Linked DNA regions of Homo sapiens. The protein of the gene in region 1 purifies or fractionates together with the protein of each later gene. This does not show direct contact. Each region holds a gene or a part of one and is shown on either strand. Other genes may lie near its edges.

What was found. Proteins that work in one complex are often made in the same cells at the same time.
Region 2: the proteins of ITM2A (region 1) and KLHL36 purify together in Homo sapiens (affinity purification with mass spectrometry; 2 studies listed by BioGRID and IntAct, with this or other methods). This does not show direct contact.

What each region holds. Positions count from the first base shown.
Region 1 is NC_000023.11:79,365,235-79,368,834, forward strand, and holds the start of ITM2A (integral membrane protein 2A), read right to left. Parts: upstream 2,101-3,600; 5' UTR 1,982-2,100; coding exon 1,871-1,981; intron 1-1,870.
Region 2 is NC_000016.10:84,655,011-84,658,681, reverse strand, and holds part of KLHL36 (kelch-like protein 36), read right to left. Parts: intron 1,812-3,671; coding exon 738-1,811; intron 1-737.

The sequences.
Region 1 (3,600 bases):
ATTAAGCAAGGCCTAAGTATTAGAATTTCAATTTCATAAGATGTTACATCCTAGAAATAAGGATTTTTTGTTTTCATTTACATTTATTGGACTTTAGGTTGGTGTGAGCCATCAATTACCATAGCTAATTTCTCTTGGAACTCTTTCGAAGTGATTGTACACTATGTCTGACATCATATTTGTCATGCTCAACCTCTAATGAGCTAGCTGATCAATGTATTACAACACAATATGTCAAATATTATTATCAGTGTCCTATAGTGGCCAGGTAAGGATCCTGTTAAGTTTTCTCCAAAACGTAACAGCAAAGTATAATCAAAGTGCAAATGCTCAGTTTTGCTTATTCCTCATCGCACCCACAATCCTGGCAGAAGTATTGCTTGCATATTAACTGAATCTATCTACAAGTCATGAAATGCTTGGCGGTGAAGAAAAAAAAAAAAAGGATTACTGTGTGGCTATATTTAACTACTGGCCTCTAATTAGACCTCCCAAAAAATCTGACCATGTTTAACCTACAAACTAAGCAGGAGAACAATTACATATTTGACCTCTGTCATTTAATCAAAACCTCAACAATGCAAGAGGGTGTTACTTTTGAGCTCTAAAATGTATAACACACAAAAGCTAGTTTTACTGCAGGATTTAATATTGAAAGTTTCCATAATAAAAAGCTGGATAAGCACATTAACATTTCAAATTGTGTGTACAATCAACTTTTACTACATGGATTCTCATTTAACTCAAAGGACTTTTTATATCTCCACTTTGAACACAGAAGTTAAAACTATATAGAGAACAAGACAAGTCAGGACAGATCTGCAAGCGCCAACACTTTCCAGATTTCATAGAACACGAAGACAATACTATTGCCCTTTAAAATTGAGATTATACTGAGGAGTAGTATACGAACCCTGAAAACATAGTAGGTGTTTAAAAGAAGTAGAAATAGGACTAAATAAATAATGGATAACATTTTGGGGAAGAGCTTCCCCAGTTCCTGTCAAAGCTAGTAGTTTAAATTACAACACTGGACCTGCTTCAGATCTCTAAATAGAGGGAAGGGGATGTTGTTCAACAAGAAAAAAATTTAAAAATAATTGAAAAGTATCCTCAAATTTATTTTTACAAGAGAAGAGTGTTTTCTTTAGGAAATACCACTCTAAAAATATACAAGGCTCTTGCAGTAAAAGGGCACAGTGAACACCCAACACTGGCATTAAGATCCACCTCAATTTTGACAGCTTCTTTATCTAATGTTTAAAGCCACCTATGACCAGAGAGAAACGGAAAATATTCGCGCGCTCAAGCAGACCACTTGCCCCAACCCATACTGCTTGGAGTTAAAAGTGCCCTTTGCTGCTCACCCCACCTCCACGAACACTCAGAGATCATAGAAAGATTTAGTCTTAGAACTTCATCCACACCAAAAGGAAAGAAAGAAATGTTAAATCTCCCGGTCTTGCTCACCCCCCTGTGTCCCCTCTGTCCCTGGGGAGACTATGCGCGCCCCTGGAGGTGGGGACTGGGCGACATGCCCCTCCTTGATCCCCAGGTCCCTACACGTTACCCAAGAGACAATGACAAGGAGTCCCAGGGCATCTCCTCAAACTCTCTCTGACCTCCCTCCAGGACAGCTGGTGTGAGCTGGAACAGACAGAACATGGCACGACACGCGGGAATGCAGAGTGACAGAGGGTGCGGTAAGCAGAAGGTGCCGCAAGGAGACAGAACCGAGGCGACCGGGTAAACCCCAGAGACAGCGTAAGAGGAGCAAGAGGGGCCCTCCCAGGGAAGCTACATTTTCTCCTCTGCTACCAGCCTTCTTTCTTTCGCCCACCCCTCCCCCATCCCGCCCTGGGACAGCTACCTTGCCGGTCAGTATCTGAGTTCTGACCGTGCGGCTCAGGAGGGCCTCCACGTCTTGCCGCGCCTCCTCCTTTTGCACGGCGGTAGGGGTATTGAAGGCGATTTTCACCATAGTGAATCTTCGGGCTGCGCGGTAAGGCGCTGCTGGAATCAGCGTCCTGGGCTGCAGACTGCAAGAGGAGATCCTGTTAGCCCAAACAGCACTTACTTTATCTTCAGTCTAACACTACTGCAAGCCGAGGTCTGGGATACTTATGACGCAGTCCCAAACTGGGGGGAGACCGTGGGCGGGCCCAGGGAGGTGCCTAAAGGGAGGAGCGAGAGGGGGCCCAAAAGGGGCCCAAGTGCCTGAGTTGGGGGTTTGCGAGGTGGCGCGGATTTGCCACTGGGGGAAGAGCAGGGGAAGTGGAGTCCGTGGCCGGCTCAGGCTAAACGTGCCTCACCTGCACCTCAGGCATACTCCCACCCACTCTCTGCAACTTCAGATAAGAGCAAGACAGGAAGGAAGCCTGCTGTGTCGTGTCTTTCTGCCTCTGTCCAGGCCACAATAGCCCCTGACTATGACTGTTTTCTCAAACTTGGACCTGACTCCCCGCAGGGCCTGGGACTGTAGCTTGGCAGTAACTCAAACTTCCTTAGTTCTGGACCCACCCAGGCCCCCAAAGCGCCATTCTACAAAGGTTCTGTTCCTTGATAATAATATCTTCCTTTTAAAGGACACCTAGAATCCTGTTTATAGTTACCCAGTTGATTCTTTCAACAAATTGTTATTTTTTTTATTTGCTTGCTTGTGTTTTGAAATTTTAATATCTCAACCTAAGGCGATGCTAGATCAGAAAGATAGGGCTCCTGCCTCCCCAACACCCCATTTTGTAGATAAGACATGATGAGACAGAGAAGGGTGGAAAGCTTACAATAAATTCCTGAAATAATCTAGATTTTTCACTCTTCCAGGTCAGGGAAACCAGTGTAAAGTCTCAACCCAGAGACTGTTTCTGTTCAGCCACCAGCTGTGAAACCTGCAGGGGGAAAAAAAAAACGTGTGTGTGTGTGTGTGTGTGTGTGTGTGTGTGTATAAGTACTTATGTGTTCAGGAAGGTGGAGGTGGAGGTGGAGGATACAAAATTTAGCCAGATGCTAATACCGATCTAATGGAGGAAAAAACAATAACTTCAAAGGGGTTGAGTTAGAAATTATTCTTGGAACATTTACATGTGCAGCCAGTATAATCAAGCTGTTTCTTCACAGTCAGTTTTTCCAGGTTAGTGATACTGATAGAGAACCTTACCAAGTACAATGCAGGCTTTGGAGGTTGCTGACTGGGGTAGCACTGGTACACAGTTTATAAATAGTCCCGCTGCAGAAGACAGGAGAAAGGTCTGTTGTGTGAAGACAGTAGCACTTACCAAAACAACAGCATCAAACAAAACAAAACAAAGAAACAGCTTTTGCTACAGAATTTACCATCTACTCATCTACCTAAGAAACGGACTTAAATATGTTGAGTCGCCACCCCTTCATCCGAAAAATTCCAACTTGGCGTTTTTCCCACTGATGTTTCCTTGACTCAGAAGCCTGTCTCCTGTTTCCACTGTGGGACCTTTGTGAAGACAGCATTCATTTTCTTGGATAGGCCACAGATGGGAAGGTGGATGGAGGGGAACAGCGGGGAGCCTGTGCCTTACTTAGGGCCAGAATCTTAAAAAGCAGGATGTTTGAGTTTGCTTAGAA
Region 2 (3,671 bases), on another chromosome or scaffold:
CCAGGGGCTTGCCAGTCAACATGAGCTACTGCACTCCCTGTCCCCCACGTATTCCCAGAAGGGGAATCCAAAATGTGGAGAGGACAAGAATCTGAAATTTCCTAGCTATGACTTAGCCAGGCTGGGATGAGACCTCAGGTCTGACATCAAGGCCCACGCTCTTCCCAGAATCAGGACACAATACATGCCCAAGGGCCAGGCGTGAGCACTAGTGGTCTCCTTAAACTATCTCCCAAAATGCTTCCAGAGGAGCCCCACAGAGACTCCAGGACCTGGGGATGTTGAACCATGGATCAAACATCTAGACCCATGCTACTGTCCAATAGGGTAGCCACGCCTCGTGCGGCCACATACACTTACACGTCAATCGGTTAAAGTGAAATAAAATTGAAAATTGACTTCTTCAGTCGCACTGGCCACATTTCAAGTGCTCAGTCGCCACATGCGGCTGTGGCTACCGTATCGGGAAGTACAGACAGACCCTTCCATCTGCACAGAAAGCCCCGCCAGGCAGTGCTGCTCTGAACGATGACGGACCCCTCGAAGGGGTGGGTCGGCTCTCCCTCTCCCTGTCCAGGATGTAGGCCCCGGGGTATTCTGCTCGTCACTTTATCATCACACCTCATTCAGAAGCAGGATAGTTGTCAAGGCCCCAGAGAGGTAAGGAAAGTCAAGGCTAGGTTAAGGAAACCGAGAGAGTCCTCAAGAGAAAAGAAATAATCTGGCTTTAATCTCACCTTGATCCACTGTTTACAGCGGGGGTCATACCTATAAAGAAGATTGGAGGCCGCATCCCCTCCGTTGTCCCGTGAGAAGCTGCCGCCGGCGATGAAGATGAAGCCCCCCAGCACCGCGACACAGTGGTGGCTCCGCCGGGCGGGCAGCGGCGTCTCTTTGACCCACTGCTCGCTCTTGGCGTCCAGGTAGCAGGTGTCGTCACTGAGCTCCAGACACCGCTCGGAGACCTCGCCGCCCACAAACAGCAGGCGCTCCTGGTTGGTGCGCAGCGCCGTGCGCTTGGTCTGCATGACGGGCTGGGCCGCCAGGTTGTTGTGGTAGCGCACGGCCTCCTCGATGAAGCCCTCGCAGTTGGCCTCCTTGGGCAGCAGCGAGCACACGGCCGGCTTGACGCGGTGCAGCAGGTCGTTCTTGGGGATGAGCGGGAAGTGGATGTTCTCCAGCACCTGGCGGGCGTGGGCCTCGCGCTCGGGCTGCTGCGTCAGCCACTGCAGGGCGGCCTGCAGGAGGTCGTGCTCACACTCCCGCTGCACCTCGCTGCTGCTCAGGTAGACACACAGCTTCTGCATGGAGACGTTCTGCAGGAAGTCGGGCGTAAAGGACAGCGTGCCGAAGTGGTTCAGGATGAAGCCATCGATGAAGGCATCAAGCCGCTTGAGGCTGTAGATGGAGGCCAGCTCCTGCAGGTACAGGTAGTTGTCCTCGCTCACCTCCTGCTCCAGGTACTCACAGCAGAAGTCTACCACCGTCCAGATCTGCAGCAGGTGAGCCGTCTCCAGGACGTAGTCAATGTTGCCGCCATCCAGCACCAGCTCCCCGCCGTACAGGAAGTCCACCACGGCCTTGAGCCCAATGTAGGAGGCGCCGATCAGCTCCACCTCCTTCTGGAAAGCTTCCCGCATGCCGATGGTGAACATGGAGTTGAAGTAGTCGCTGCACACGGCCAGCAGGTTGCGATGGGCTGGCACACGCTGCTCATCGGCCACCAGGACGACGTCGCAGAAGAGCCCGCGGAGACGCTGCTCGTTCAGCCGCTGCAGCACCGTGCTTGAGTGGTCGGCCCAGCGGTATACCTGGACAGAGAAGACACATTAGAAACGGCGCAGCAGCCTGCTCGGCCCTGGTCCAACCCAGTGGGTCCTGACCAGCATTTTCAACAAAATGAAACTGAAGAAAACAGGAAATAAAATGCTGCATCAGAGGGCACTGCAGGAAGTACAGGTGTTTCTGAGTATGCCTGTGTATCGTGGTTTTTTTTTTCCTTCTCTTATTAATATAACTTCTTTCTTTCTTTCTTTCTTTTTTTTTTTTTGACACAGAGCCTTGCTCTGTCGCCCAGGCTGGAGTGCAGTGGCACAACCTCAGCTCACTGCAACCTCTGCCTCCCGGGTTCAAGTGATTCTCCTGCCTCAGCCTCCTGAGTAGCTGGGACGACAGCCCGGCTACTGGAGTTTGAGAGCAGCCTGGCCAACATGGTGAAACCCTGTCTCTACTAAAAATACAAAATTTAGCCAGGCATGGTGGCGTGTGCCTGTAATCCTAGCTACTCAGGAGGCTGAGGCAGGAGAATTGCTTGAACCCAGGAGATGGAGGTTGCAGTGAGCCAAGAGCACACCACTACACTCCAGCCTGGGAGACAGAGCAAGAACTCCGTCTCAAAAAACAAAAAACAAACAAACAAAACAAAACAAACAAGAAAAAACAAAAAACAAACCAAAAAAACCCAAAACCAAACAACACAACAATTCAAGCCAGGCATGGTGGCTCATGCCTGTAATCTCAATGCTTTGTGAGACTGAGACGGGAGAATCACTTGAGGCCAGGAAGTTCGAGACCAACCTGGGCAACATAGCGAGATTCCTGTCTTAACAAAATATTTAAAAATTAGGTGGGCGTGGTGGCATTCGCCTGTAGTCCCAGCTGCTCAGGAGGCTGAGGCAGGAGGATCGCTCAAGCCCAGGAGCTTGAGGCTGCAGTGAGCCATGATTGTGCCACTGCACTCCAGCCTGGACGACAAAAAGAAACCCTGTCTCTAAATAAATAAATAAATGAATTCAACATAGGGAGAAACAGGTAACTGAAAACTATCACATAGATAGCTGGTCTATTCCAGGGTGACTGAGGTGAAGAACTGGCTGGGCACTAGCCTGAAGAGGGGAAATGTGGTTGGAGGAAGAAAACTGACCGAGGGCTATTAGGTATTAGCAGCTATGTGGTTCGACTTTTTTTTTTTTTTTTTTGAGACAGGGTCTCACTCTGTTGCCCAGGCTGGAGTGCAGTGGCACAATCTCGGCTCACTGCACCCTTGACCTCCTGGGCTCAAGTGATTCTCCCACCTCAGCCTCCTGAGTAGCTGGGACTACGGGTGTGTGCCACCATGCCTGGCTAATTTTAAAATTTTTTTGTAGAGACGAGGTCTCACTATGTCGCCCTTGACCTCCTGGGCTCAAGTGATTCTTCCGCCTTAGCCTCCTGAGTAACTGGGACTACAGGCACACGCTACCACGCCTGTCTGATTTTTATAATTTGCAGGGACAACGTCTCCCTAAACTGCCCAGGCTCTGAATTCTTAAAAGTTGCTTCTTAACATGTGTCCTACAGCAGTGGGTTTTATTTTTTTCTTCCCTTTCAAATCTTCTTTTTGTTGCCATACATGCGTTTGTCATTGAGACACTTTATTTCCCTGTGGTATTTCCACATCCAGTCAATTCCAACAGCAACTTCTCTGTCCATGCTACAGGAGCAGGCCACATTCTCACAGCCTGTGGAGGATGCCAGACAGATCCGACTTGGCATTTCCTTCTGAGTTCAGAGGACGGGCTCTCCCGCTCTTCCATTCCAGGCTGGCTTTTCAGTTCACAGGTCACACACGTGGAGATCTCTATTTATCCTGGTTACCCACAAAGAGAGCCAGGCTGGCCTACACCGGGCTT